7 linked regions of the Homo sapiens genome follow. The protein of the gene in region 1 interacts with the protein of each later gene in a pairwise test. Each region holds a gene or a part of one and is shown in the gene's direction. Other genes may lie near its edges.

Region 1 (4,510 bases):
AAGAGCCTCTGGGGAATGGTGCATTCACTTGGGGCCAGTAAGGGGCAATGGCTTACTGGTTTGCTCAGCTAAGAACAAAGAGTCTTGGACATCTCACATCTACCAGGATGCTCTCTCCTGAGCCTGTGATCTGCCTGTGGCTTGCTGCAGAGTACGGCTGCTCTCACTGCTGCACAGGCCACGGCCGGAGCAATGCGCTGGACAGGGGAGGGTTGCATCCTGCTGGCCCACCTGACACGGTCCCTGAAGTCTGTCCCCACTGCTCCTGGGCACAGCCGAGCTCCAGGATCATCTCTCGACCCAGGCCCATGTGCCCTAGAGGGGAGGCTGGGATAACCAGGGGTCCCTGCAGAGTGGACAGGTGGAGGCCAGCAGTGGGGAGACAGGAAACCAGGAAAAACCACCTCCCTCAACCAGCCAGCTTTGGTCTGTGTAGATTCTTTCTTATTCAGTTAACTTTTAATTATCTGTGTAGCACGTGAATACATTCTTCACAGAAAATGCATGCCTTGCAGCTCAGGATAACATCCTCTTGGACTCAGCATGTTGCAGTCTCTCCTTCCAGATTTTTTTCCTGTGCATTTGTGTGCACTTCTAGGAACTCTAGACAGCCATGGTTAAGAACACAGCTTGGGGCTTGCTTGCCTGGCTTTAAATCCTGGCTGTGCCCCATCGTATCTCTATGTCCTTGGGCAGCATAACCCCCCGTCCCACAGTGGCCGCATCTGTGAAATGGCTGATGCCAGGGGCACCCTCCTCCCAGGGCGGTGAGGGTAAAGCGTTGGTCTGTGTGAAGTGCTGAAAGCAGGACGTGGCACAGGATAGGGCCTTACTATGTATTAGCTGCTACTGTTGGATCCTTGCTGACATCACTCAGGGCGCGGGACTGTGACATTGTCTTATGAGGGTATCGCTGGGCTCTACACACAGGCTGTCTTGCTCCTGTGTGCTGCTGAGTGGTAGTCCCCGCCGTGGCTATAGGTTATTTGGCCAGTTGCTTCTAGCTTTTCATAACTAGCACTAGTGTGACAGTGGTTGTGATCCTTACACACACACCTGGCAGGCCTCTAGATCATATGGCTGGAAGTGGAATTGCTGGGTCTTAGCTAGGCACGTTTTTAGTTGAAGGAGGAACTGCCCTTTCCCTTCCCTTTCTTTGGCCCTGCGCCTGTGTACCACCTCCACTTCTCTCCCTGCGGGGTGGTATGTCCCGGCCTTTGCCCGGCCTCCAGCACAGCTCTCAGTTCCCACCCCTTCCTAGCAACGAAGCAGTGAGCGTTCCTGGCACAGGCCTCTGTCTGGGGGGACGCCCCCTTTAAGGGAATCATGTACCAAAGTGGGAGAGCCAGCAGCAAGCGGGGAGGAAGAACAGAAACGAAGCCTGAGAAAGTGGTGTAGGTTGGTGGGGAGGGCATCCCGGGGGCTGCCGAGGTCTACCAGGCCTCCAGATGTTCCTCTGGGCATCTGCCGCTTACTCCCAGCTGGCCCAGCTGACAGCCACACAGCTGATCTGGCTGGCGGTGCTGCGGGAGGGCAGGGGTGCAGGAGCCAGAGGCAGGAGGGTTTCAGTCCTGGATCTGCCACCTATCAGCTGTGGGACCTGGGGCAACTCCCTGAACTCTCTGAGCCTCACTGCCTGCACCCGGAACATGTTTGTGCAGTGGATGGCAGCTGTTGTGGTCAGCAAGGGCTTCTGTGTCCAGAGTGCCAAGGGAAGGGAGCTTCCAGGGCTGGGCTTTAGGAAGACCCAAACAGGCATTGTGATGGGCCAAGCAGTCAGAAATAACGAGAATAGCTAATCCTTCCATGTGCTGACGGTGCGCCAGGCATGGTTCCCAGGGCCTGTCACGCGCTAACGCACGTTACCCTGTGCAGTGGGTGAGCTGAGTCTCACATAGTTGGTAGACGACTAGGGACGTCACACCCTGGCCACTTGGCTCCTGAACACATCCTCTTAAAATCCATGATGTAGGAACTGCTACCACAGGTATCCCTGGGCTCCCTACCTCCTCACTGGGTGACAGATCTGTAAACTGAGTCCAGGAGGCAGAGCCACACCATCTGTGGGACGCCATGCAGCCCTGCAGCACATGGAGCTGGGGCAGGTGCCCAGCAGGGACCTCACTGAGTCTGTCACCTCCGCATTGGAACCCCACCCCAGCGTCTCCTGCTCCTGTACCTGGTACACACCGTCAGGGGTACATGCCTGGCTATGTCCACTTTCTGTCTGTCACATTCCTCCCTGGAATGAGCCCAGGTGACCATGTCACAGGTGAGCCACACCAGACCTCTCCCACCTCTGCAAGAGCATCCTTGGCCCCAGAGCTGCTTCATGATGACACGGGCACCCTCAAAAAGGAGTGAGAAGCTTGTCTCTGAGAAACATGTACGCAGGGCTTGGGTGGCCACCTGGTGTGACAGTGTGGTTGGACTACTTGGCTAAGAGCTTTCCACAGGGGCCTCTGAGGCCCTTCCAGCACAGGGCCCTGTACCTGGAGGCAGCCCCCTTCTGTGGACCTGGCCTCCCCTACACTCGGCGCCCAGCCCCTGGGGCCCAGCAGCCTCGGGTCCCATCCACCTGCTGGAGCTACTGCAGAAGGGAGGCAGGGGATGCTGTCACTGGGATCCTGCAGGGAGCGTGGCTGTTTCACCCTTCCAGCGCCCCCAGGGGGCCATTCCCCTCCACCTGTGGGAACAGGGCTCAGAGAGTACCCCTGATCTGCATGCTCCAGCTCTGTGCTCCTTGTGTTTAACGTGTCTGCTGTCATTGATAAAAATAGCAGTGAGCAGAGCCGGCCTGTGCAGAGCCTGGACCAAGCGCCAGGCCCCATGCCGAACACCTTCCGCCTATTGTCTCACTGATTCGCCACAGCCATCCTGGGAAGCGTAGGTGCAGGCAGCGAGGCTGAGAGCCCAGGCCCAAGCTCAAGGCCACACACCAGAAGTGCTGGGCCCAGAGGATGTGCAGTGCTGCTCCCGTAGCCTGTGGTGCTGATGATGGAAAGGATGGGCTCTCTTAGGAGCACTTTGAGCTGGGTCTTTGGAGGTTGGGACCCCTCTCCCCTAGACACAGGCCACTGTGGCCTGTGGCCCTTGATGCTACCCGCAGCCCAGGATCCCGAGCCCTGGCCTGGGTCTGAGGTGGCTGGTGCTGAGTCTTGGAGAAGAAGACAGTGCCAAGGGAAGCCCTGCAGGGGGTGCTTGCCACACTTCAGAGGGTGATTCTCCTGCCTTCTCTCTGGGATCAATACCAGGGAAGCCACTTGGGTTCACGCTACCAGAAAGTGCGTGTAAAAGTCAGAGCTGGTGGAGCAGGCAGCCTCCGGAGGTGGCGAGCTTGCTGGCCCTGGCAGTGTGGGAAAGGCTGGAAGTGGCACCTCTCTGCAGGACCCTAGGTTGCTGCATTGGAAGGGCATTTTCAGGTGTGCAGGGACTCTCCGAATGCTGAAGTTGGTGAGTCTATCCTCACCCCCACAAGCAGTTAACAGTTACCAGGGCTCAGACCTCTGACCACGGAGATCCTCGGGCACTCCAAACCCTGTGTTGGTCTCTGCGTTAATCATGGCCTTCTCTGTTGCATGTGACAGGAACTCTATCAAACTGGGTTAAGCAAAGAGGCTTTACTGGTTCACGGACCTGAAAAGTCCCGGGTATTTCTTGGCTCCATCTGGCTTAGGGTTGGCCCTGCCCCTTGCCAGATCCTCCCTGACCCAGGGCAGGAGGGCCATCAGAGAACCCCAGGCCTGTAGTCTGACCTCAAGGCAACCCCAGTAGGAGGAAGAGAGATTCTCCTCCCCTCATCGGCTCCTTCTGGCTCTTGTGCCTCTCCCTGAACCACTTGGGCAAGCAGGATGCAGGGCTCTGACTGGCCTGGAGCAGAGAGTAGAATCTGCCCACTAGGTCTTAGGGCCTGAGCTGGAGGGTAGGCTGGGAAACCTGGGGGCTGAAGCTAGGTGCTTGGGCATCCATCCACTTCCACATCTCTTAGGCATCCTGAACAGTTAAAAAGGACTGGAGCCAAGCACAATGGCACATGCCTGTGGTCCCAGCTGCTTGGGAGGCTGAGGCGGGAGGATCACTTGAAACTAGGAGTTTGAGGCCAGTCTAGACAACATAGTGAGACCTGGGTCTTAAAAGAGAGAGAGAGAACCCTTTCCTGGATCCTGCACACCCCTGCTGGGAAAATACCAGGGTAAGCACTCAGTGCTTTGCTCCAGCAGGTAGGTGTTCCCCACGTGCAATCCACAGCCTTGCAGCAGCTCTTCCTCAGAGCCTCACACAGCTCACTCTTCCCACCAGCAGCTCAGCTTGCCGCTGAAAGACGATGAGAGATGCGTGTGCAGGAAGTGACTGGTGCAGTCTGTGCTTACCTGTCACACTTGAATCTGAATCGTCATCTGATGTGAGGAAAAGCTGGCTCAGCCAGCTTTAGAGGAGGCAGCTAAGGCCAGACCTGGGAGCACACAGCAGGGATGGAGCCAGGAGGCTCCGACTACACTGCCTGCTGGGG
Region 2 (4,510 bases), on another chromosome or scaffold:
TATTTAAAATTATACAGAGAAATTGAGATTTCATCTCTTCAAATGTCTTGGTTCATTCTTGGTTTGAGTTAAGACTGAATGGAATGATTTGAAATGACTATATGCAAACAGTATGCCTATATGATTATTTTTCTTCACTAAAAATGATAGCGTAAAGTTACTAGAGCAGAGATTCACAGACTCTCATGTGCAGAATTATCTTGCATGTTTTTCCATGTTTCTTTGATGGCCAGAATGGCGAGAAAAAAAATCTTCTTTCATTCTTTTTCTGTGACCAGAAATTTTGATGTATTTGTCTGGGGGTAGAGGCCCCAAAATGTTGGTACTGACCATACTCTGAGAAACTCTGCCCTATGGCTAAGGTTTTCCAGCCTTACAATTATGGATCCTACCTGTTGTTCTCACGGAACAATCGGACGCTGGGTGGGAGAACAGAGGCAGGTCGGTGAGAGGTGAACACACCAAGCCAATCACAGCAGCCTGAGACCATTCCTCTTTACGTACTTCACATATTAAACACATAAAACATCTATCATTTGAAAAGATGAAAAAAATCCTTGGTTATACAATGTTTGAAAACCTGTGCCTCAGAAAAAGAGATTAAAAGAAATCCCAATTTTCTGTGCTTCCAGAGTCTTCAATTTTAACTTCGAAGAATATAAGTGCTGGCTGGACGTGGGAGGGCTCTAATGGGTGAATAGCTGGGCTGTAGCCTCATATGTTGTCGAAACAAATGGAAACTTCTGAAACCCGAGAAGGTGCCTTTCAAGTATTTTTAGTTGGCAAAAGATAAGTGGTCAACATGAGAGGTGATAACATGATGTACATGAAGAACCAGTTACACTGTTGGTACTAAGAACGCAAGCATGTCACACTAAAGACTTGTAAGAGGACGTCAAAGAACTGGAACGAGTCATTGAAGTAGTTTTTACAGCAGTGCCACTCAAGCTTTAGTGCTCATCAGAATCACCTGAGGACCTATAAAAGCACAGATGACTGGGCCCAGACCAGTTGGCCTTGGATGGAAGCTGAGAAGTTGCGTTTCCAGCAAGCTCCCAGGTGATGCTAACACCGCGGGCCCAGGGGCTGTGCTTTGAGTAGTACTGCCCGAAATAGTAAAAAATAGTATTCCTTAAAATATGGTCAGTGAATAAAATCTATTTTTACTACATTTTCAATAAGAACGTTGAGCTGCACCTGGGCTCCAGGGTGCCTGTGTGTAAATTACCTTCATGTGTTATTGGTGTTTCCTAAATGAGGCGCCATTCATCATCTCCTGACAGATGAGATGAAGCTATTGGACCTAGCAAAAAAATAGGAGGCTCCTCCAATATCCGTCATACAGTTAACGAACTACATAAACAAATAACGATTGAGTCCTTACTCTGTGCCAAGCACAGTGCCAGGTACTGGGATGTAGCAGAAAATAGAAACAGACAAGATGCCTACCTCAACGGAGCTATTCTATTTGGAGCAGCTAGTAAGTGTGTGTTCTATCGAGAAACAGCAGAGTCAAGGGGACAAAGAGTATTGGTGGGGAGTTCCGTAATATACAGCAGCCGCGAGGCCTGTGTGATGAGCTAAACTGTGAGGAGGGCACCCTCAGGGAGCATCCATTTGTGTGCCAAATGGCAGAGGCGACAGCAACTCGTGAGCCCCAGGCAGGCCCCCGCCCAGAAAACGCAGCAGCCAGTATGGGGTGGAGCTTGGAGCAGGTGGAGCTCGGAGAAGAGGATGTCAGAAAAAGGGCAGGGTGGAGAGGTCAGGTAGGGTCTGCTGGGCCCAGGATTTGACCCTGTTGAGAAAATTTGACTTTTGAACAATGGAGTGACATGATCTGACTTCAGGAAGCCTCATGCTGGCTGCTTGTGAAGGAACTGCAGGAGGAAAGGGTGGAGGCAACACAACCCGGAAGGTTTTCAAATCCTAGAACTGCTGCACTGCCCAGAACATCGCGAACGGGCCATACCTGCAGGCGGTGTCGGTGAGTGCTTGCCGCAAACCTGGCACTATAGAAACCCTGTTTCCCTGAAATACCTCTTTTAATTCCTTGCAGCCTTGTAAGGTAGACCATGTTCATATCCTCTTTATAGATGAGGAAACTGCAGAGACCACTTGAGGAACCGACCCAGACAATTCAAGCCGTACCCAGGGACCGTCTCACTTCAGAGCTTATGTAAAATATCCAGTAGCCTGTGTTTTCCTGAATATAGCTATCAGGTGAAAGGAAATTTTGCATTTCCTCTAGATGTTTTGGTTAGAAAGTAGATATAGTCTTAAAATGGACCTTTTTGAAGAGTCATGTTAATTGATTTCAGCCAAGTAGTCAGATTTTAAAACTATATCACAAGGTATACTACTTTTTCAGAATTTTTTGCTTTTGAGAAAAAAAAAAGAAAAACTGTGGCCACGCTGGCCAGTCTGGTCTGGAACTACTGACCTCAGGTAATCCACTGACCCCGGCCTCTTGAAGTGCTGGGATTACAGGTGTGAGCCACCACACCCAGCCCCATGTTTTTGCTTATATGCTTCCAAAAGGAGAGGAGACATGTCATGAAATAGAGCGGGAAGGAGTGTCAGCATGCAATTGACAAAAAGCTGCGGAGAGGAATACCATGCCGGGGCAGCACAGGCTGAGGCTGGCCCCGTCTACCTTGTGCTTTTGTTCGTGCCTGTTTGGGTTCATGCCTCTGTGGGAATTGTTTTGCTTTTTGTGGTTGGTTATCTGTTTTGAAACATAAAGAAATAAAAAGTAACTGTGGGGGAGAGTAGGTGAGAAATGACAGCATTGGTTGTTGAAGTTAAGTAAAGTACTTGTAGGGAGCCTCAAAATGTTTTGATTTTTCTGAAGTCACCTCTGCAAGGTCATATTGTGATTTCAAGGGGAAGGGAGACATTGCATTCAAGACTCCATGAGGCCTGGCTGGACAGTGTGCTCTTCTAACGACAGGCCTCTACAAATGGTAGTGTCTGGGTGTCCCTCTCCTGGAGGCCTACATGGCCAGTGAAGCAAATCATTTACATCTTTTACTCTTCAAACCCTGAAGTGTTTCAGAGGACACTGCCCATATGCCAAGATGGGGAGATCTGCACTTGACAGGAATGAGCGTGGAGGCAGGGTATTTACAGCTGGGGAGGTCCATCTTGGGAATCATCTGAGCATCGTAATTATTGCAGAGTCTGCCAAAAATGCAGGCAGGCTGCTGGATTCCACTTTCTTAAAGGGAAGATAAAGAAAAAATTTCAAATTAAGTGGTAGAATTTAACTGTCTGTAATACACTCTTTTCAATCTTTCTAAATTTGTTCTGAGTAAATAAGGACTAATGGAAATTTTGTGAAATTTTATAGAAGGTGTTATTTTGTATGACCTGTAGCTTCCAAACATTTCATACATAAATCAAGAATTTATGGTCTACTTATGTAAGAAAAACAGAATTAATAAAATATCTATTATATAATAGAAAATGAAACCCTTATGACAAGGAAAATATCACTACATTCTTTTTTAGAGTACTTTTTGATAATTTCACAGAATCAGGCCCAAACTCCTACACCTTCTTCATCTATTTGACTATAATTAATTTTCCAAATGATACCTCTGATGCTCTGTAAGATCTTACAATTCTTCCTCAATCCCCAAAGGTTGACTACCTTTGGTGTTAGAGGTGTGTTATTAGATTCTAATTCTTTGCAAATTAATGCTCAATCTTTTCTGTGCATGATAATTAAACTCACTAGAGTCCCAGTGCATCAGTGGGGTTGTGATTTGCTTCCTGTAAGAAGGGAATCAAATGGCCGATAATTTACTTCAGTGGATTAAATGAAAATCGTTTGAACCAGTGTTTACCACAGTTCCTGGTATATACTACGCACTGAATACAGAATTTTTGTTGCTAGAAAATGCAGTCAAAAAGGGTGACAGACATTGATTTTGAATCCTTGAGCGCATTCATGGTACCTGGGCTGTGATGTGTCTGCCATGCAAATGCTAAGCCGACTGGCAGTAAGTGTGGGCCCCGGAGCCAAGCAACTTAGCCCGTCTTGGCTCTACTTCTTGCTACCTCTAGGACTCGGAGAATTTACTTTCTTGCAGTCCAAAGTGTGATCTGTGGGCCAGCAGCAGCAATTGGGAGTTTATCAGAAATGCAGAATCATTGGCCCCCTATCAGACCTACTGAATCAGTAACCTTCATTTTAATAAGATCCTCAAGTGAATAGTGCACTGTTTTGTTTTGTTTTTAAACATACCAGGCCACAGTTTCCCCATTTCTCATACAGAGATAAGGAAAAAGTACCTAACTCATGAAGTTGATGTCAGATACTTCGTGACAAGGGCCTAGAGAAAGGCCTGGAATATACCAAGTGCTGACTATCTGTTATCCATTTCAGTTATCCCTTTGCTTTCTAGTTCACATGTACAAAGGCCCAATATTGTGCTCAGGCTCTAAAATACTACCTAGGTTTACAGATCCAGGGCTACCTGCCTGAATTGCCCCCAGAACAGGTGCT
Region 3 (4,510 bases), on another chromosome or scaffold:
AGGCCTCTCATGGGCCCTCCCTGTTTTTCTCTTGCACTCCCCGGGCTTTCTGGCACAAGATGCCCCAGAAGCAGAATCACATATCTCTCCTGGGAGCCAATCTAGTGTGTTTACTGCCCCTGGAGTGTTATTGTTGGCCTTAGAATATGTCCCACTACAGGTTTGCAGAGCACTGTAGTCAAAAGTCATTTGAAATAAATCTTTTCTCTGTGGTATATTGTCAATTTGATATAGAATTAAATTTGTTTCTTTTCTTTTTTCTTTTCTTTTTTTTTTTTTTTAAGAGACAGGGTCTTGGCCAGGCGTGGTGTCTCATGCCTGTAATCCCGGCACTTTGGGAAGCCAAGGTGGGTGGATCGCCTGAGGTCAGGAATTCAAGACCAACCTGGCCAGCATGGTGAAACCCCGTCTCTGCTAAAAATACAAAAATTAGCCGGGCGTGATGGCAGGTACCTGTAATCCCAGCTACTCGGGAAGCTGAGGCAGGAGAAGGCTTGAACTCAGGAGTCGGAGGTTGCAGTGAGCCAAGATCACGCCATGGCACTCTAGCAAGACTCTGTCTCAAAAAAAAAAAAAGAGAGAGAGAGAGACAGGGTCTTGCTCTGTCACTCAGGCTGGAGTGCAGTGATGTAGTCATGGCTCACTGCAGCCTCATACTCCTGACCTCAGGTGATCGACCCGCCTCGGCCTCCCAAAGTGCTGGGATCGTAGGCTGAAGCCACCATGCCTGGCCCGAACTCATTTGTTTTTATTTGCATTAAGTGTAATAAGGTTTTGTTACTTTTAGTTTGAATTTTATTTTGGGTAATATAAACATTTACATGATTCAGAAGTCAGAATTACACTGAGGCATGTTCAGCTAGGCCTCACTCCTGTGCCTGTACCCTTACCTTTTTCCCCCTACCCCATGCAGGGAATCAATTTCATTAGTTCCTGGTGTGTCCTTCCTTAATACCCCCCCTTCTTTCTTTGGTAGAATGCAGTAGATATGTTTGCGCTTTGCTCCCTTTGCTTCACAGTGGATCCTGGAAATGACTCCATCGCAGTTCTTAGAGCTCTTGTTTAGTCCCTTTGGATCTGCACAGTACTCCAGTGTGTGGGCGCACCATAAGTTTATTCAGCAAGTGCCCTGGTGATAGGGATCGGGGGTATTGGAAGCCTTTGGCTGGTAAAAATAATGTTGTAGCAAATAACATCATGCATATGTTCTTTGAGATTTCTGGAGGTGTCTCTTTAGCATAGATTTCTAGAAGGCATTCCTTACGTCACGTTTAGGTTTATAGTTTGACCTCATGGTGATTAAGGTATTTGGGAAATGCAAATGAGAGTTTCGAAGAAGCCAGATCTTTCCCATTAGTTCACTGTTTTTCTCTGACATTAGGACCGTCCGGGTTCTAGGGAGCAGCCCTGGCGTTAGGCAGTGCCATGATGGATTGTGTAGAAGTAGCGATTCCCATCTGTCTGCTTTCTTGGCCCACTCTGCTGGTGGCTCCCCTTCCCTCCCTCCTTTATGGGGAGCTGGGGAGCTGCCTAGGGGTCCATTCTCAAAGGCTGATCTCTGGTGGGCAACAGGCCACACCTAGCTTTCCAGGGTTCTTCGTCATTTCCCATTGAGAGCTGTAAGACTCAGAGACATGAAAAGGAAGCTCTGGCTGGGCACGGTGGCTCACGCCTGTAATCCCAGCACTTTGGGAGGCTGAGGCGGGTCGATCACCTGAGGTCAGGAGTTCGAGACCAGCCTGCCCAACATGGTGAAACCCCGTCTCCACTAAACATACAAAAATTAGCCTGGCGTGGTAGCACACGCCTGTGATCCCAGCTACTCCGGAGGCTGAGGCAGGAGAATAACTTGAACCCGGCAGGCGGAGGTTGCGATGAGCCGATATTATGCCATCGGCAACAGAGCGAGACTCCATCTCAAAAAAAAAACAAAAAACAAAACAAGGCGAGCTCTGTGCTGGGACAGATTAGGGACCCCTCTTTACAGCAAGAAAGACTGCTCTGTGGGTTGTAGGATGCCTTTGTGTATGCAGTGGCTCTAGGTGACTCTGGCAGCCACACTCTGGGCCCTAAACTTCTGGAGGAAGATACAGGATAGGGAGGAACTCAGGGGTGAGTCATGGTGGGGACAAGACATTCCCTCACTCTAAGACCTTGTCACTAGATTGGAACATCTCTTGCCTCCCTACACCTGACCTGATGGTTCTGGAGAGATACGTCCTTGCAGCTTCTGAGTCCCAGCACTAAGCAGCCTTTGGTAACTTCCCTACATCATTTGAGTTCTGGTTTCCTAAGGATGCTTGCCAGTGAGTGCCATGGTGCCCTCATTGCACAGTCTGTGCAGTGTAGACAAGAGGGGAAGTCTCTTGGGGTAGACCAGCCGCAAGGCGGTGACTAGCACTGATGTGAACCACATGGGACAGGGGAGTTGTGGGGCTGAGAACACGGAGGGTGGGAGTAGTCATGCTCTTTTCCAGAATGAACTGCTAACGAAGGGACTCGCAGGTGGCTGCTGCTTCTTTCCAAGCTGCCCCTGTTGTTGCAGAGGCTCTGGAGTCCTAGGAGGTTTCACGGTGGCATACTCGACAGAGTACTAGAGCATCATGGCCAGATAGTGATGCTGGGGTGTGGGGCCTCACGGTGGCCATTTCTGACGAGACCCCACCGGGCCAAAGTGATGTGTAGAGAAGGAGCTGCTTCGGTCACCAGAAAAGAACGGGGAAGCCTCCCACACTAGAATAGGTAGGGTGCTCTTCTCCACCGGCAGGAAGGGGATGTATGGCTCTGCCTGGACCACACCTTTTTCCTTGCTCTTCCCTCCGCATCTGCTGTGGCCGAGGCCATTCCTCATCAGGGAACATGTGTTAGAGGCTCACGCCACCTGGGACCACTTGTCTTATCACCCCCAGGACCCTAGGCGGTAGTTTCCTGTGGCCTGAGTTAGCTGATATTTATATAGTGCCATTGTGCCTTTTCTCCTGTGATGCTCACAGTAAGGATGCCTAGATGGGGTTACCTGTTGTCAAGATAAGGAAACTGAAGCACAGAATGCTGAGGTCATTTGCTGGGTTCATGTTTGGAAAGCGGCAAAGGATTTCAGTGCAGGTTGGCTGGCTCCAAACCTGTGTGTGCTTTCCATGACACTGTACTGTGTGCCTCATTGAGCCTCATTCTAGAAAACCAAAAACACACCCAAGGCCCGGCCTTCACAAAGGAGACCCCTCCCCCATTTGGCTCCCTTTCCAGCAGTCGACGGCCTCTTGTCAGCCATCGAGCCCAGAGTCCCTTGAAGTGCGACTCATGCTGGGGTGGTATGCTCAGGAGCCGCAGTGTTTCCGCTCAGAGGAAAGGGCTCTGATTCTCCTGCAGTGCTAGGAGACTTGTGGGTGGCCACAGTGCAGGTCAGGCACACCGGCCAGCACCACCCACAGCCCAAATTCCTAAAGAAATATTTGGGTCCCAGCTTGGCCCGAGTCTCTGTTGTCCTGGGGAAGGACATCAAGATCTGAGTGTATGATGGCCTGGGGCCTTGCATGTGGTGGGGGTCCAAGCCTGCCTCTGCTCACTTGTTCTGCAGACTGGCATGTTCTCTGTGATACTTACATACTTGTTTAACACTTCAGGGAAGAAAAGTCAGAAGACCAGGACCTCCAGGGCCTCAAGGACAAACCCCTCAAGTTTAAAAAGGTGAAGAAAGATAAGAAAGAAGAGAAAGAGGGCAAGCATGAGCCCGTGCAGCCATCAGCCCACCACTCTGCTGAGCCCGCAGAGGCAGGCAAAGCAGAGACATCAGAAGGGTCAGGCTCCGCCCCGGCTGTGCCGGAAGCTTCTGCCTCCCCCAAACAGCGGCGCTCCATCATCCGTGACCGGGGACCCATGTATGATGACCCCACCCTGCCTGAAGGCTGGACACGGAAGCTTAAGCAAAGGAAATCTGGCCGCTCTGCTGGGAAGTATGATGTGTATTTGATCAAGTAAGTAAGAGCAACTCCTATCTCTACAGGGCAGGGAGGGCAGGGACAAGGATCCCTCATGGAGCAGGAAAATGTATGTGCCCAGGGTGGGGTCGGGGGGAACATAAACAATGAACACTGAGACCAGGTGTGCTTGAAATGACCGTGTACAGAGGTCGCTGCCCTGAGTGGGAAGTTCTCAAGGTAGCAGGCCCTCTATCCTCTCCACACCTCAAGTCTTTATCTGGGGATGGAATAGCTGCGGAAGCAGAGGAACTTGCAGAGCTAGGGGTTCAGAGGGGTGAAGAAGCATGTTTCAGTTCTGCCTTTTAAATGATCCCAAAAAGGTTAGCAGTTTTCAAATGACATTTGCAGACAGCCTCATTTAATTCCATGAGAAGGGTGAGCAAAGGATTATCTTGTTGAAACTGATTCCTGGAGAGACTGAGCACCGTACCTGAGTTCAAACTTGGGAATGTTCTAGATGGTGACTCAGGCCCAGGCACCAACCAGCAGAATGGGCCTCAGCCTGACAACCCTTCTGTACCAGGCCTGAC
Region 4 (4,510 bases), on another chromosome or scaffold:
ACTATTTACAATAACAAAGTCATGGAACTAACCCAAATGCTCATCAATGACAGACTGGATAAAGAAAATGTGGTACATATACATCATGGAATACTATGCAGCAATAAAAAGAAATGAAATCATGTCCTTTGCAGGGACATGGATGAAGCTGGAAGCCATCAGCCTCAGCAAACTAACACAGGAACAGAAAACCAAACACCACATTTCTCACTCATAAGTGGGAGTTAAGCAATGAGAACACACGGACACAGGGACAGGAACAACACACACCAGGGCCTGTTGGGAGGTGTGGGGTGACGGGAGGGAACTAAGCGGATGGGTCAATAGGTGCAAGAAACCACCATGGCACACGTATACTTATGTAACAAACCTGCACGTTCTGCACATGTATCTCGGAACTAAAATAAAATTAAATATACTAAGACTCCCTGTGGCAAAGAGAGAGTTAGCAAGGAAATACTACATCTAGCAGATTAATCAGGCAGACTAAAGATTAATCAAGGAGATAAGCTCTCTAAGTACACAAGAATTTTGTTAGCTAACTCACATCATATGAAGCCTGTTGCTGTGAAGTGGTTATAAAACCATTTTGACAACATAAACATCATGATTGCTTCCTCCCTGGTCAGGCTCACAGCCTTTGTTCTGAAGACTTTTGCCCAAGCTCGAGCCTACATCTTCATCGATGAAGCACACATTACCCAAGCCCTCATATGGCTCTCCCAGAGGCAGAAGGACAATGGCTGTTTCAGGAGCTCTGGGTCACTGCTCAACAATGCCATAAAGGTGAATCATTCTGGAGCTAGTTTTGATTTGTCCATTATGATATCTGCAAGGATGAGGATAGGAAGTGATAATGTGAAAAATTCTAAGGGAAAGCCTCAGAGGAAAATAAAACCTGGATGGCACCAAAAAAGAGGGGATAGAACAAAAGTTGATTGTGATACTTTGCCCTATAGGGATGGATATGGGTAAGGATGAATTCCATGACACAGCAGAATAGAAAGAACTAATCAATAGCATTCTCAGAAGTTGAATTATTCAGATCTCTCTCTCGTATTCACAGGGAGGAGTAGAAGATGAAGTGACCCTCTCCGCCTATATCACCATCGCCCTTCTGGAGATTCCTCTCACAGTCACTGTAGGTACCACCCCATTCCTCTGCTGAAGGAGAGTTCTGGATGCAATGAAACTGCTGACCTGCTGTCTGAAATACTATCCTATTAAAAGCAAAGCATCAGCTTTCTTTCTATGCAATGCCAGTGCTTCCCAGATCTACAGAGAATTTGGTCAGCCCATTAAGAAAGGTTTAAATTTTCCCAGTAATTCCCCTAGGCTATTTACCACCACCACTCAAAAAAGAATCTTAAAGATGTATCTTTTGAATGTGAGAATAACAGATAAAAATAATATTATATCTATTGATAAGAATGAGGAATCGTTGGAAAAATGCGTTTGAAAAACTTCTGTGCTGTGATCCGTGTATTTGCCTGGGAATGCTAATATGCCTGTTTACATAGCTTAGTTCCCTTCTTGTTCTGCCTTCACAGCACCCTGTTGTCCGCAATGCCCTGTTTTGCCTGGAGTCAGCCTGGAAGACAGCACAAGAAGGGGACCATGGCAGCCATGTATATACCAAAGCACTGCTGGCCTATGCTTTTGCCCTGGCAGGTAACCAGGACAAGAGGAAGGAAGTACTCAAGTCACTTAATGAGGAAGCTGTGAAGAAAGGTGAGAGCACACCTGAGATCCTTCTCCTGGCCCATCCTCTGTATCAAGAACTGCATGGCAAAAATCCCTCACTCCTACCTCCTGTGATCCCTGTCTCCTCTCTTCTTTTCTATATATCATATATATTTTGTCCATATTGCATCTTATAAAATCTAGGATTTCTTAATCAAATCAGAAATCAGAAGACAAGAGGCCGTGCAGATGCTTCTCAATTACGATGGGGTTATATCCTGACAAACTCATTGTAAAGTCTAAAAAATCTTAAGTGGGACCATTGTAAGTCAGGGACCATCTCTATAGTATGCTGGTAAGAAGAGCATTCTCTGGAGACTAGCTCCAAAATGTGCTACCTATGTGAGCTTGGGAAAGTCATTAACTTCCTTGTGTTTCAGTTCCTTCATCAGTAAAATGGGGATAATAATAGTATTTACCTCACAGAGCTGTTGTAATAAATGAATTGGTACACGTAAAACACTTAGTAGAGTACATGTCACATAGCAAATCCTATAAAAGTACTAGTTATTACAATTAACATATCAGTTCTCAATATATGCCCAACCCTTACCTGGTACATTATATAACCTTAAACATAAGAAAATAATCATGGAAGTAACTCCTTGAATGAATTCTGGTATTTTAAGCCCATTTCATAAGACCAATAATGTTGACCAATCTACTCATATTCACACAGTACTTCTACATATACCATGGTCTATATGAGCGGTTGAAGAAATAGAAAATAAAATGCAAATCACAAGATGTCCATTAAAACAGTCTACCTTTTTCCTTTGACAGCCATTAATTCTTCTTAAAATGTATTGAGAAATATTTTATAATAGATATACAAAAGGGCATAAGCTATAACTAGAAAACACTGTACAACTCTCTCATAGATTAAGAAATAGAAAATTACCGACATGGGAAAAATAAATCCCTTGTGTATCACTACCACCTCCAGAGGCAATCATTATCCTGAATTTGTCGTTACAATTCCATGGATTTCCTTATATTTTTGCTGCATATGTATCCCTAACTAATATTTAGAATCTTCACATGTGTTTCATCTTGAGAGAAACAAGATTTTTATTTCTCTCTTATTCAAGAAACAAGAGAAACATTTTTGAATATTTCAGCAGCTTAGTTTTTTGTTTGTCTGCTTTTTATTTTCTAAGTTCAACACTATGTTGATGAAGACCCCTATACAAGTATGTGCAGAGTCAGCTCATTAATTTTCACTGCTGCATAATATATTACAGTCTATAAATTAGTCATAATTTACACATCGAGTTTCTCCTCATGGATTTTTTTTATGTTTTGCTATTAAAAAAAATGCTGCAATGAATACTCATGTGCCTGTTTTCTTGTGCATCTGTGTTTCTCCAAATTATGCTTTGAGAAGCATAATGACTGATTAGTGGGCTAAGCACATCTTCCCCATTGCTGAATATTGCCAAAGAGCAGTTGGCTTCCCACAGCAGTGTATATTGGTTCCCATTGTTTCACATCCATGTCAGCCTTTGGTATTTCAAGGATTACTGTATTTTTTTTTTCAATTTAATGAGTAGAAACTCTACTATTTCATGTGATCTGTGATCCTCACAAGAAACTGATAAAGACACACTTTATAGGAAATGTAACAAACTCCAGCTATAGTCTAATATAACATCATAAATAGGAAATAGCCAGACTCAATGAGACAACTGCTGTGCCATTTCTTTCTCCCACCAACCCGACTATAGCAACGATTTGAAAACATAGATAGGCATAGGCTTCTGACTCCAGCATCAATATCTGCCTTAGCTGGGCTAAAACACACCAAATTCAGATTTACATGAAGGGAAAAGCATCTACATACAGTACAGGGGATTATAATGGGCATGCAATTCTCATTTCAGCACTGGCTTGGGTACTTTCACCTTGAATTAAATATAAATATGTAGGCACTTATAAATATCTTTTTCTCATCTTTAAGACAACTCTGTCCATTGGGAGCGCCCTCAGAAACCCAAGGCACCAGTGGGGCATTTTTACGAACCCCAGGCTCCCTCTGCTGAGGTGGAGATGACATCCTATGTGCTCCTCGCTTATCTCACGGCCCAGCCAGCCCCAACCTCGGAGGACCTGACCTCTGCAACCAACATCGTGAAGTGGATCACGAAGCAGCAGAATGCCCAGGGCGGTTTCTCCTCCACCCAGGTTGGTGATTTGCCAAAACCTTTTATTTCACCTTCAGGTAGCAAAAGATTTGAATGAAAAAGAAACAAACACATCCAAGAAGAAAAAAATACAGATGACAGTAACTTGAAATGAGGAAAAGTTTTCAGTATCCAAGGATAATGGAAATAAAAGCAAATCAAAGTCAAAGAGGGCCAAAAGGAAATGCTCAGAATCCCGGCACCCCATCGCTGTGTTATTATCCATCTCCTATTTCCCATAACAACACTGCCTTCCTCAAGCAGCAGTGGAGCACCAGCAGAATGAAGGAGATGTCTCCTGCCATTCTCCTGAAAGCTCTAGGGTCTCTTTCAAACTGTTCAAAGGAACTCTACTCAAAATCCAACAACCTCTCCTCGCAAATCTCTCCATTCTTAGGTCCCCTTTAATAGGCTTTTCTCAAAACTACACATTTTGTGCTTCCCCTATTCACCTTTTTTTTTTTTTTTTTTTTAAGACAGAGTCTTGCTCTGTCACCTAGGCTGGAATGCAGTGGTGCAATCTCGGCTCACTGCAACCTCCATCTCCCAGGTTCAAGCGATTCTAGTGCCTCAGCCTCCCAAGT
Region 5 (3,500 bases), on another chromosome or scaffold:
GCCTTGGCTGGGGAGTATGGAGCAGTCACTTACAGGTAAGTGCCCTCTGCCTGCCAGACTGACTGGGACTTCTTTGAGAGCAACTTCATCCATCACTTATGTCCTCAGCACCTGGTACAGTGTCTGATATGACAGTAGATAATAAAGGCTTAATGTTGGTGATGGATTTTCAGTTAGTGGATAATTTCACTTGGGAAAGATTGCAGGTAATCTGACCCCAAATGATGATGCACTTGCGTAATTCACATTGGAGCAGGGGAGAGGAGGCCCCCCAAAAATGCCCAGTTCACAGTGTTGCATGATTGACTGGGGTTCTCAGATTCCTCCTAAGAAATGCACGGGTAGAGCGCCACCTATCGGAATAAACTGAACTCTGTCCCCACCAGAGGGAACACTCATTTCACTAATAGTTATGTGCACTGATGGTGCCAAGAGATTTTAAAAAAAACAAAAAGTGGTCTGTTGGCCCAGAGGTCTCAGTGTGGCAGCAGAGAGCCCAGGGTGTAAGTGCTAGAATCGAGTATGCTTGGGCTGAGGGAGCCCAGGGGAGGCGTGTGCTGCAGAGGAGGGGCTGCTCAGAAAGCCTTCTCAAAGGGACAGTTTGTGCCACCTTGTGAAGGATGAATTGGCATTACTTGGGCAGAGGAGTAGGGAAGTGGCATTCCCAGCAGAGGGAAGAGCAAGTGAACAGCAGCTACGCTTTCAGCTCAGAAAAGCCCATGTCCACCACCAGCCTCACCACAGGTGGTGAGGACTGACGCGCAGGCTATGACAGAGGAGATACTTGTGCCCACCTCAATATTTACAGCCTGGCTCATGCCTGTAATCCCAGCACTTTGGGAGGCTGAGGTAGGCAGATCACTTGAGCCCAGGAGTTCAAGAGCAGCCTGGGCAACATGGTGAAACCCCGCCTTTACAAAAAATAAATTTTAGCCGGGCATGGGGGCAAATGCCTGTGATCCCAGCTACTCAGGAGGCTGAGGCGGGAGGATCATTTGAGTCCAGGGAGGTTGAGGCTGCAGTGAGCCAAGATCATGCCACTGCACTCCAGCCTGGGCGACCCTGGAGTGAGACCCTGTCTCTCATTTGTAGACCCACCAAGAAGAGGTGGGTCTGCTGCATTTTTGGTGATTTACTGGAGGGCTGGTTTATAGATCTTCATTCTGTCAGAAGCAGGGAGGCAAAAGTATGAAATTAAGGGAGTGGTTGTGGAAAACCCCTTCCATGGTTTGGAGGTTTCCAATGTGACTGGGAGTCCCTGCAGGCCGGTGGAGGTAGCTGCTCAAGTGGCTGCTGCTTCTCCTGAGGCCTTTTTGGAGAAAGTGGACACCTGAATGTCAGCTGCTTTGGGGCTAACATGATCCTTGATGCCTCCTTTTGTGGCATGAGTGGCAGCCGGCCGACGTGGTGCTGTCCTGCTGCCGGAGCACCATGATGTCTGCTGCTGAGACCTCCCATCTGACATAGTCCCTGTCCCTCTTCAGGGACTTTGTTCCTTTAGCAGTTCTCACTGTCTGGCCTCAAATAACACGTCTTTTTCTGTTGGTTCCTTTTTGCTCCAGCTGTACTGTAAACACTCTTTGTTTACTGCATACCCTCAGTAAATACCTGTTGAATGACCGGATAGATGTGGCAGCAGGTACATTACCTCAACTTCTGGTACACCTTGGGAGAAGCTTTCCCAAGAACACCCTGGGTTCATTTCCTCCTAGCCTCTGCTCTCCTGGGGCCCAGAGATTGAAGGCGCTTAACCTGCTCATCTCACCACGTCTCCCGCCTTATCTCTCACCCTTCTCATCAGCACCCTACACTCCACCACGCTGGCTTCATAGCTCCTTCCCCGAATGTGCCAGGCTTCTCTGTGACCATCTCTTGAGCGTACAGCTGGCTATACCTGGGCTGCCCTCCTCCCACATTTCAGGTCTCAGTTCAGACACCCGCAACCCCACCATGTATCTCCCCAGTACAGCCATACTCCTCTGCCCCTGAGCTCCCATGACACCTGCTGGGGCCCTGACAGCCTGGGGCTGTGATCATGACTTGCCCAGGGGCCCGAGGGTGGAAACGATGCTCTGGCTCCTTTGATTGCATAGAACAGGGGCCACTCAGGTTGACTCAAGAGCAGGAGCAGCGCGTGGGCACACGTGGACTGCAGCCACACAGCCTGGGGACCATGCAGTGCTGGGAGAGGCCGGTGCCCTGCTCTCTCCCCAGCACCGTCTAGGCTCTGCCCCATTCGCTTCCCTCCACCATTGTTATGCAGCAAAGGGGGCTCTAGCCTGATGTGCTAGAAGCAGTCACACTGGATTTTTGAGAAAAGCCAAGCTTTCTATTGTGAGTCGACTCATATGGAGACAGGAGTTGAATTCAACCCTGTCTCCCTGTGCTAGCTTTAAGGCGGTAATTTTATTAGAGGAGGTTTAAGGGGTGGATTCTAAGATTAGCAGGTGATTGATGGAAGGAAAGGAGAAGTCTGGACAGTCCTTGGACATGCACAGTTATCTGTTCATGCCAACTCATGGGTCCCCTGTGCAGATTTGGGAGGAGTGAGTATGAAACGTGCAGTGGCAATTCAGGCTTTGACATCAGCAAACTTGTTCTGTGCAAGCTGCAATTGGCCTTATTGGTTCCAACCAATTTCAGCCAGTTCTTTTATCTCATAAGCAGAGGGAGTTTCAGCCTTTCAGAAAGTGGTTTCTGCAAACTCAAATTTTCTTTTATTTTTCTGAGACAGGGTCTTACTCTGTTGCCCAGGCTGGAGAGCAGTGGCGTGATCTTGGCTCACTGCAGCCTCAACCTCCCTGGGCTCAAGTGATCCTCCCACCTCAGCCTCCCAAGTAGCTGGGTCTGCAGGCACATGCCACCATGCCCAGCTAATTTTTGTAGTTTTTGTAGAGACAGAGTTTCTCCATGTTGCCCGGGCTGGCCTCGAACTCCTGGGCTCAAGCAATTGCCTGCCTCAGCCTCCCAAATTGCTGGGATTACAGGAGTGAGCCACGGGAATTTCCATCAGTTACTGATTCTTGAACTTGTAGGAACGTGGTTCCACTGTCCACATGCTGTTCTTTCCTCGCATCTCCTGTTCCTGCTTCCCTTTGGCCTGCTCACCTCTGGCTCCTCATGGCCCCAGTGAAGTATCGTGGCTTCCTCTCCACTGCAGACTGGCAGATTTCTTCACTCACACTCCCAAAAAGAGAATCTACTTCCCTCCCTTCCCTTCGTCCAACCATCTGGGTCTCGAGTGTCACTGTAGGTTCACTGCCGTTGGGGCAGGTGACTCCTTGGGCCAGTCAGCTTTGGCTGAAGGGCAGGGCTGGCACACAGCTGGCAGAGCCACCCCATCCAAAATCCAGCCACTGTGCCTCAGCAGGGCTGTGGTTTGGGGGTCGGGGGGCGCTCCCCACAGGATAAGGAGCAGCCAGGGCAGGCAGATGACACTACCACTACTAGCTGCATCTGGATCTATTCACTTATTCAACAAAGGTTTATTACACCCATAT
Region 6 (4,380 bases), on another chromosome or scaffold:
GGTGATTGCTCTGCTGCTTCCTGTAACTTGCCTGCCTTTCTCCCTGTGTGGGACTCCTGCGGGTGAGAGCGTGGCTGAAGACAGCCGTGTTATGAAAGGGCCTCCTGTGCTGTCGAGGTTGTGCTCTGTGAATGTCATCCCCTGGTGCACAGCAGCACCTTCTACACAGGATACAGTTGGAATGCCGCCCCCTCGAGTTGTGTAAGGCAGCAGCCTTGGCCCTTGCACATAAGATGCTGTTGAATATTCTGCCTGCACCAAGTAAAGGGCACAGATAGAACTGCTTGGCATATGTTGCTGGGGAGATGAGTTTTTTGTAAAGTATACTACGTTCTTAAGAATTTGGATCATAACCATGGGATTTTAATAATAGAAAAACTGTTGAAGATCAGTCTGGTCCCTTATTTTTACAGTGAAGAAGCCAAAGCCCAGAGAAGGGTGTTAACTTTACAAGTGTCAGACAGTAGTTAGAACTTGGTGGGGTTTTTTTTTTTTTTTTTTTGAGATGGAGTCTTGCTCTGTTGCCCAGGCTGGAGTGCAGTGGTGCGATCTCAGCTCACTGCAACCTCTGCCTCCCAGGTTCAAGCGATTCTCCTGCCTCAGCCTACTAAGTAGCTGGGACTATAGGTGCGCACCACCACGCCTAGCTAATTTTTGTATTTTTTCAGTAGAGACAGGGTTTTGCTATGCTGGCCAGGCTGGTCTCAAACTCCTGACCTCAGATGATCCAGCCACCTCAGCTTCCCAAAGTGCTGGGGTTCCAGGTGTTAGCCACCATGCCTGGCCATAGACTTGTTTCTGTTCCCTTCTCACTGTGGCTGTACCAAGGTGTTGCTTATCCCAGAAGTCGTGATGCAGGTCAGCACTTTCTCCATGGGAAGTTTTAGCAGTGTTTCTTTTTAGAATGTATTTGGGAACTTTAATTCATAATTTAGCTTTTTTTTCTTCTTCTTATAAATAGGCTGTACCAGTGCAGGTCCTCACTTTAATCCTCTATCCAGAAAACACGGTGGGCCAAAGGATGAAGAGAGGTAACAAGATGCTTAACTCTTGTAATAATGGCGATAGCTTTCTGGAGTTCATATGGTATACTACTTGTAAATATGTGCTAAGATAATTCCGTGTTTCCCCCACCTTTGCTTTTGAACTTGCTGACTCATCTAAACCCCTGCTCCCAAATGCTGGAATGCTTTTACTTCCTGGGCTTAAAGGAATTGACAAATGGGGACACTTAAAACGATTTGGTTTTGTAGCATTTATTGAATATAGAACTAATACAAGTGCCAAAGGGGAACTAATACAGGAAATGTCATGAACAGTACTGTCAACCACTAGCAAAATCAATCATCATTGTGAAACATAGGAAGCTTCTGTAGATAAAAAAAAAAATTGATACTGAAAACTAGTCGAGACTCCATTTATATGTGTATGTTTTCTGAAAGCCTTTCAGAAAAATATTAAATTTAAGGACAAGATTTTTATATCAGAGGCCTTGGGACATAGCTTTGTTAGCTATGCCAGTAATTAACAGGCATAACTCAGTAACTGAGAGTTTACCCTTTGGTACTTCTGAAATCAGGTGCAGCCCCATCTTTCTTCCCAGAGCATTAGTGTGTAGACGTGAAGCCTTGTTTGAAGAGCTGTATTTAGAATGCCTAGCTACTTGTTTGCAAATTTGTGTCTACTCAGTCAAGTTTTAATTTAGCTCATGAACTACCTTGATGTTTAGTGGCATCAGCCCTAATCCATCTGATGCTTTTTCATTATTAGGCATGTTGGAGACTTGGGCAATGTGACTGCTGACAAAGATGGTGTGGCCGATGTGTCTATTGAAGATTCTGTGATCTCACTCTCAGGAGACCATTGCATCATTGGCCGCACACTGGTGGTAAGTTTTCATAAAAGGATATGCATAAAACTTCTTCTAACATACAGTCATGTATCTTTTCACTTTGATTGTTAGTCGCGGTTTCTAAAGATCCAGATAAACTGTACTTGCAGTTCAAATTAGGAAAAGCAATTTTATTGGACAATTACGGTGAAAATGAATTATTTTATCTAGGTCAGTTAAGAACACTGTTCTGCTAAGATGCAGTAAAAAGCAGGTTACATTTGACCATATTAGATCTGAGTTTGGAAAACAGAAGTAGTCTTTAGTTTTAAAATGGCCAGATTTTCTTGCCAGGATTGGGTTTCTCACTTGTTAAACAGAACATTTTGTTAAGTTTAAAACCTGGGATGGACTTAAGTATTCATGTTCATTCATGTTCATTCAGGACTGCAGGTTATCATGACTTGTTTAACTTGTGGGAAGCTGTTGTCCCAAGTTATCCTGGGGAACTGCATCTGGTTCTTGCAAAACACCAAGTAGACAGGCTCTCTTTTACCTCCCCTTGAGGGCATTAACATTCAGTAGTCACTTCCATTCAGTTAACCCTTTATTTTTATGGTTTTTCTTGAGCCATAGTTGTAAAGCAGAAAAATCATTTATAAAGGTTTGTTGAACAAAATTCAAAATACTGTTGCTTAAAGTATTAAGATTTTTTAGGATTATACCTTACTTATAGGCCCGTCATTCATTTGGCATGAAATTTTGAGTTTTATTCACTTTCACTTTCCTTTTTTTCCAAAGCAATTAAAAAAACTGCCAAAGTAAGAGTGACTGCGGAACTAAGGTTACTGTAACTTACCATGGAGGATTAAGGGTAGCGTGTGGTGGTCTACAACATAGTTATTTGGGTTTTAGTATTTCATTTAGACAGCAACACTTACCTAATGTTTAAAGGTAATGTCTTTGCAACACCAAGAAAAAGCTTTGAGTAGTAGTTTCTACTTTTAAACTACTAAATATTAGTATATCTCTCTACTAGGATTAATGTTATTTTTCTAATATTATGAGGTTCTTAAACATCTTTTGGGTATTGTTGGGAGGAGGTAGTGATTACTTGACAGCCCAAAGTTATCTTCTTAAAATTTTTTACAGGTCCATGAAAAAGCAGATGACTTGGGCAAAGGTGGAAATGAAGAAAGTACAAAGACAGGAAACGCTGGAAGTCGTTTGGCTTGTGGTGTAATTGGGATCGCCCAATAAACATTCCCTTGGATGTAGTCTGAGGCCCCTTAACTCATCTGTTATCCTGCTAGCTGTAGAAATGTATCCTGATAAACATTAAACACTGTAATCTTAAAAGTGTAATTGTGTGACTTTTTCAGAGTTGCTTTAAAGTACCTGTAGTGAGAAACTGATTTATGATCACTTGGAAGATTTGTATAGTTTTATAAAACTCAGTTAAAATGTCTGTTTCAATGACCTGTATTTTGCCAGACTTAAATCACAGATGGGTATTAAACTTGTCAGAATTTCTTTGTCATTCAAGCCTGTGAATAAAAACCCTGTATGGCACTTATTATGAGGCTATTAAAAGAATCCAAATTCAAACTAAATTAGCTCTGATACTTATTTATATAAACAGCTTCAGTGGAACAGATTTAGTAATACTAACAGTGATAGCATTTTATTTTGAAAGTGTTTTGAGACCATCAAAATGCATACTTTAAAACAGCAGGTCTTTTAGCTAAAACTAACACAACTCTGCTTAGACAAATAGGCTGTCCTTTGAAAGCTTTAGGGAAATGTTCCTGCTTAGTCATTTTAGCATTTTGATTCATAAAGTACCTCCTCATTTTAAAAAGACATTATGATGTAAGAGAGCCATTTGATAACTTTTTAGTGAGCTTTGAAAGGCAAGTTACAGCCTCAGCTAGCTAGTAAGATTATCTACCTGCCAGAATGGCACAAATTCTACATTCAAGGGTAGACGCTGGCACAACCTACTTACAGATTAGCCCTTTAAAGCAATCTGTAGCATTAGAAGATGGAACCAAGGAAATGTTTGACTGTGGGTTCTGGCTGTTGAGAAATAATTTACACACCGAATTAGTGAAATGAGTCACTTTCTCTTAATGTATTTATGTACCTGAGAGAATGCTTTTCAATGTTAACCTAACTCAGGTTTGACTAAATTATTCAATTGGAAATTGTAGAATATTATTTCTGATAAACCAGAAATAAGTGAAATGCTGTTTGTTCATAAATATGTACTTTATCAAATGTAGGAGAGATCATTTAGGAGAGGAAAAGCTAAATTGGAAGACAAATCTGTAGTGTTTCCAAAGTTTTAAAATTATGGTAAACAACAGTATGTTCACAGTAAGTGGTTAAAACAACCATTCTTTAAATCTCAGTAGAGAATTTTTAAAAAGCAGTATTTAACACATTTCCCTAATGTAGTTTGTTGCCTATGTGGAATAACTCAATTAGAGACTCACTTATGCCTTTTGAAACTTCAAATATAATTACACTACCAGTTTTTACATGTG
Region 7 (4,510 bases), on another chromosome or scaffold:
CCTCCTGACTGATACAGATTTAGAAACTCTTTATGATTCTTTATGGTTCCCGTAAGCCCTTTAGTCTCGTAAACCCTGGTCTCCTAGTGGGGATGGCATGAGGACATTTGAGCCTGCTCTTTCCAAGGCTGCTTCAGAAGGGCCTGGCCCAGTGGCCCTGACCCTCAGCAGCAGGCCCGACTCATTGGAGTGATGATGGTGGGGGAGGAGAACCTGCACCTGCAGGCTGAGGATCGCATGAGCCCCAGAGATTGAGGCTGCAGTGAGCTGAACACAGACTGCACTGTACTCTAGCCTAGGTGACAGAGCGAGACCCTGTCTCTAAAAAAAACAAAACAAAACCAACTATGTGTAATTGGTAGTGGAGTCTCCCAGGGTGGGAGATGGCAGAGTGACAGGTGAGAGGGGTGGGACGTTCACTGTAGTCTCCCTCTGCCCTGCAGCTTCCCCTTCCTCCCTGCACTTCCTCTACAAGCTGGCCCAGCTCTTCCGCTGGATCCGGAAGGCTGCATTTTCTCGCCTCTACCAGCTCCGCATCCGTGACTGAGGGTCCCTGCGCACCACAGCCTCTCTGCTCCTCACGTCCGTGGCCACAGAAGCAGAGCGACAGAGCGACACATCCACAGGCGCCCCTGGGGAAATGGGACCAGCCTAATCTCGCGGAGTGCACTGTGTCTTGCTGCCTGGGTGCCCTCTCCTTTGCACCCTACTTCGGCTGGTCGCGGTAGATGATGTGGAAACAAAGCAGGACCAGCAGGCACAGCACCTCCAGAACAGTGCCCCGGATGACCAGAGGCCCCTTGAAAAGGAGGGGTTTGGGGACAGGGACTGTGTCCATGAAACATTCCATCTTCTTGGTGAAGGCAAGGGGTTGGTTCTTCAGGTCAGGATGTTAATGGAGCTGGAAGTTCAGAAAAAGCCTGGTGAAGTGACCCTTGGCCTTTCACTTCTTGAGAAACATACTTCTTTGCTGGGCATGGTGACTCACGCCTGTAATCCCAGCACTTTGGAAGGGTGAGGTGGGTGGATCACTTGTGGCCAGGAGTTCAAAACCTGCCTGGCCAACATGGTGAAACCCCATCTCTACTAAAAATACAAAAATTAGCTAGATGTGGTGCACGCCTATAGTCCTAGCTACTTGGGAGGCTGAGGCAGGAGAATCACTTGAGCCAGGGAGGCAAAAGTTGCAGTGAGCTGAGATTGTGCTACCGCACTCTCTCAAAACAAACAAAAAAACATGCCCCACAGGACAGTACCTTAATTAGCTAGAGTAGATCTGAGAGGGCCTCTTCTTGCCTGCACTGTGCTCCCCAGAGCTGATCTAATTCTGTATCAATAGGCTGTTCCCATGGTCTTGCCATGCGCTTGAAGCTGCAGGAGCCTTCTCACTGTTCAGGCTGGGGTGTGGTTTTCAGAACCACCGGGTTGACTACTGAAAACCAAGTGAGCCTTACAGCTCTTATCGCTGGGTAAAGTGATCTTGCCTGGTGCCTCTTGGTCTTCAGCTCAATTTTCCAGGTTGTCCTGGCCAAGTCTTGCTCTGTTACGCTCAGTGCCTCTGCCCACTCTTTCCCCGCCAGCCCTTCCCTCCCGCCCTGCAAACTTGTCCCTTGGCTGTTTCACCAGGTTCTGCCTGTATCCTTGCCTCCTTGGTACACACCATTTCAGGTTCTTCCCTTTCTGTGTCCCATTGTCCTAGTTATGTTCTGTTGTTTGTGTAATGCCCAAATTTTTCTGCTCGTGTGGCCTTGAAAAGTAGGCCAGCCTCAGAGGCTGCTGAGCTGAAAATGGAACTGAGTAATCAGGTGAGCTGGAAGGGATGTGGGGGGCGGGGCAGACGGGAGACATGGGTTTTGAAGGCAGTGAACAATAAAACCTTAGGGAGGTGGCACCGAGGCCTTAGCATTTGAGGAGCTGAAATGTTTCAGTGTTGTTTTCTCACCAGCCACAAGCATCTTATGAGTTTCTGTGCAAGGAAGCGTAGAGCACTGCTGTGCTGTCAGGATGAAGAAGGGCTTTCTGCAGGGGCTGGCCTTTCTCTACCCAGAGGCCAAGCAGGCTGCCCTGCACTGTGTCCTTGGTGTTGATGCCCAAAATAGAGAAGGTGCTTGCTAGCTTTTCCTTGGTACATTTTCGGGGGTTGCAAGGCAACAAGTTTTCTTTTGTTTTGTTTGTTTGTTTGTTTGTTTGTTTTTGAGATGGAGTCTCTGTCACCCAGGCTGGAGTGCAGTGGCGTGATCTCAGCTCACTGCAAGCTCCGCCTCCCGGGTTCATGCCATTCTCCTGCCTCAGCCTCCCGAGTAGCTGGGACTACAGGTGCCCACCACCTCGCCTGGCTAATATTTTTGTATTTTTAGTAGAGTCTGGGTTTCACTGTGTTAGCCGGGATGGTCTCGATCTCCTGAACTTGTGATCCACCCACCTAGGCCTCCCAAAGTGCTGGGATTACAGGTGTGAGCCATCGCGCCCGGCCAACTTTTCTTTAGAAAAATGAGTAAAGTAGGTAAACTTCACAGGCCCCTTAGAATTAAATCCTTAGGGCATGGTTCAAGTCTGTAGGAAGCAAATCTATACTTTTTTATATGGGCTTTTAAGTAAAGCTTAGAACCCTGGGGGGAGAAAAGCAGTCAGGTGAGGTTTGAGATTCCTTCTATAGAATGATTTCTTAAAATGAAAATCTGGGCCCACTTAACTACCCTAGATAAAACGCTTCAATGGCTTCCCATGGCTCACTGGATAACATCTAAATTCTTCATGGAATTGAAGGCCCCTATGTGCTGGTTTTGGCTAAGATCTCCCCTTTGATGTGGGTCCCCTGTTGATTATATGTGCGGCCTTCCAGCTGCCCACCATCACAGCTACAGCTCGCTCCCCTTGGCCTCTGTGCCTTGGCTCGCACTGTTCCTACTGAAGGCCTAGCACCTGCTCTTGGCCTGGTGAGCCCCTCCACCTTCCAGGCTTACTCAAAGAATTCTTTCTGCCCCTCCCTGTGTCCCGGGACCTGTTTCATATCGCTTCTGTGGTCGTGACCCCATGGTCTTGTAATTGTGAACTTCTTTGCTGCCCCTTCGAAGCTGGGGAGTGCTTGTTGCAGATGCATCCAAGAGGGGTAATTGCGTATCAACAGTGGATTTGCTGGTTGTTTCTACAGGGTTCTGAAGCATGCAACATAGAACAGATACCTTTAAATTTAGGGGCGCTAAGGAAAGCAGGAACCAGTAATCCTCTTCTGTGGTGGGATGGGAGGGTGGGGGAGAGGGGTGGAATGGAGAGGAAACAGGCTATTGTTGGCCAGCCCTGGGTGGAGGTGGGTGCAAGCAGGACAGATAGTGCCTGGGGGTGGGGGCGGAGGGTTCGCCTCTAGGAAGGGGCTAGAAGGGATGAGGAAATAGTTCATAGCTTCGTGCAGGTGATCCCTATTCTGCGTGTATGTGTTTGCACATGAGTGTTTGTAGACCATAGACCATTAAAAAATACGGAATTCAAAAGTTACAAAAAGGGTATTCTTGGAAAAGAAAGTTGTTTTTTTTTAGTCTTGCTGTGTTGCCCAGGCTGGACCTGAACTCCTGGGCTTGAGCAAGTCTTCCCCTCAGCCTCTGGAGTAGCTGGGCCTACAGTGTGTGCTGCCACACCCAGCTAATACAGTCTTTCTACTCCCGCTCTCTATTCCCCAGTTTCTTGCCCAGAGGCAACCCTTGCCAGTCTGTTTATCCCTCCAGATACAGTCTCTGATAGTAAACTTTTCTTTCTCTTACACAAATGATAGTAGTCACATACACTACACACACTGTGCCACGTTTAAAAAGAAAAAAAACAATTCTCGGCTGGGCGCGGTGGCGCATGCCTGTAATCCCAGCACTTTGGGAGGCCAAGGTGGGTGAATCACCTGAAGTCAGGAGTTCGAGATCAGCATGGCCAACATGGTGAAACCCCATCTCTACTAAAAATACAAAAAAAAAATGAGCCGGGCATGGTGGTGGGTACCTGTAATCCCAGCTACTCAGGAGGCTGAGGCAGGAGAATCACTTGAACCCGGGAGGCAAGGGTTGCAGTGAGCTGAGATCGCGCCATTGCACTCCCACCTGGGCAACAAAGAGTGAAACTTGGTCTCAGAAACGAAACAAAACACAAAAACCTTTCTCAGTCCCAGCATATGTGGAGCAGCCTCATTCTTCATAGCTGTGTGTCATTCCGTTGCGTGATGGGGTCACAGAGCACAGACCTGGTGCCCTTTTCCTTTTTAATATGTGGAAACCCCTCCATGCTTTCCAAAGCCTACAAGTACAGCAGCCCCAAGTTTAGGGTGAGCAGCAGTGGTCAGAGCTCTTTACTATTACTTTTGGGCAAACGCAAGCCAGGCTGGCAACCACCACTGCCGCCGAGGGGAGATACAAGCAGGCCAGTTCACACTCTGGACGTTCAGTTTCTTTCTACATCTAGAAGGTGGCCTCTGCTATCCACTTAAAGCAGCCCAAGGAACTGTCAGAAAGCGAAAGTGATGACATGAACC

The links.
Region 2: the proteins of IQSEC1 (region 1) and PRKN interact in binary tests that used the Homo sapiens proteins (3 or more experiments, as listed by UniProt).
Region 3: the proteins of IQSEC1 (region 1) and MECP2 interact in binary tests that used the Homo sapiens proteins (3 or more experiments, as listed by UniProt).
Region 4: the proteins of IQSEC1 (region 1) and A2M interact in binary tests that used the Homo sapiens proteins (3 or more experiments, as listed by UniProt).
Region 5: the proteins of IQSEC1 (region 1) and PINK1 interact in binary tests that used the Homo sapiens proteins (3 or more experiments, as listed by UniProt).
Region 6: the proteins of IQSEC1 (region 1) and SOD1 interact in binary tests that used the Homo sapiens proteins (3 or more experiments, as listed by UniProt).
Region 7: the proteins of IQSEC1 (region 1) and PEX26 interact in binary tests that used the Homo sapiens proteins (3 or more experiments, as listed by UniProt).

Annotation. Positions count from the first base shown.
Region 1 is NC_000003.12:12,929,819-12,934,328, reverse strand, and holds part of IQSEC1 (IQ motif and SEC7 domain-containing protein 1), read left to right. Parts: intron 1-4,510. UniProt on the Homo sapiens protein: Guanine nucleotide exchange factor for ARF1 and ARF6. Guanine nucleotide exchange factor activity is enhanced by lipid binding. Accelerates GTP binding by ARFs of all three classes.
Region 2 is NC_000006.12:162,255,188-162,259,697, reverse strand, and holds part of PRKN (E3 ubiquitin-protein ligase parkin), read left to right. Parts: intron 1-4,510. UniProt on the Homo sapiens protein: Functions within a multiprotein E3 ubiquitin ligase complex, catalyzing the covalent attachment of ubiquitin moieties onto substrate proteins. Substrates include SYT11 and VDAC1.
Region 3 is NC_000023.11:154,031,671-154,036,180, reverse strand, and holds part of MECP2 (methyl-CpG-binding protein 2), read left to right. Parts: exon of another isoform or gene 1-2,257; intron 2,258-3,623; coding exon 3,624-3,974; intron 3,975-4,510. UniProt on the Homo sapiens protein: Chromosomal protein that binds to methylated DNA. It can bind specifically to a single methyl-CpG pair. It is not influenced by sequences flanking the methyl-CpGs.
Region 4 is NC_000012.12:9,073,977-9,078,486, reverse strand, and holds part of A2M (alpha-2-macroglobulin isoform a precursor), read left to right. Parts: intron 1-629; coding exon 630-786; intron 787-1,066; coding exon 1,067-1,141; intron 1,142-1,550; coding exon 1,551-1,731; intron 1,732-3,703; coding exon 3,704-3,927; intron 3,928-4,510. UniProt on the Homo sapiens protein: Is able to inhibit all four classes of proteinases by a unique 'trapping' mechanism. This protein has a peptide stretch, called the 'bait region' which contains specific cleavage sites for different proteinases.
Region 5 is NC_000001.11:20,639,958-20,643,457, forward strand, and holds part of PINK1 (serine/threonine-protein kinase PINK1, mitochondrial precursor), read left to right. Parts: coding exon 1-35; intron 36-2,699; exon of another isoform or gene 2,700-3,161; intron 3,162-3,500. UniProt on the Homo sapiens protein: Serine/threonine-protein kinase which acts as a sensor of mitochondrial damage and protects against mitochondrial dysfunction during cellular stress.
Region 6 is NC_000021.9:31,665,488-31,669,867, forward strand, and holds the end of SOD1 (superoxide dismutase [Cu-Zn]), read left to right. Parts: intron 1-961; coding exon 962-1,031; intron 1,032-1,770; coding exon 1,771-1,888; intron 1,889-2,983; coding exon 2,984-3,091; 3' UTR 3,092-3,444; downstream 3,445-4,380. UniProt on the Homo sapiens protein: Destroys radicals which are normally produced within the cells and which are toxic to biological systems.
Region 7 is NC_000022.11:18,087,529-18,092,038, forward strand, and holds part of PEX26 (peroxisome assembly protein 26), read left to right. Parts: intron 1-443; coding exon 444-547; 3' UTR 548-4,510. UniProt on the Homo sapiens protein: Peroxisomal docking factor that anchors PEX1 and PEX6 to peroxisome membranes. PEX26 is therefore required for the formation of the PEX1-PEX6 AAA ATPase complex, a complex that mediates the extraction of the PEX5 receptor from peroxisomal membrane.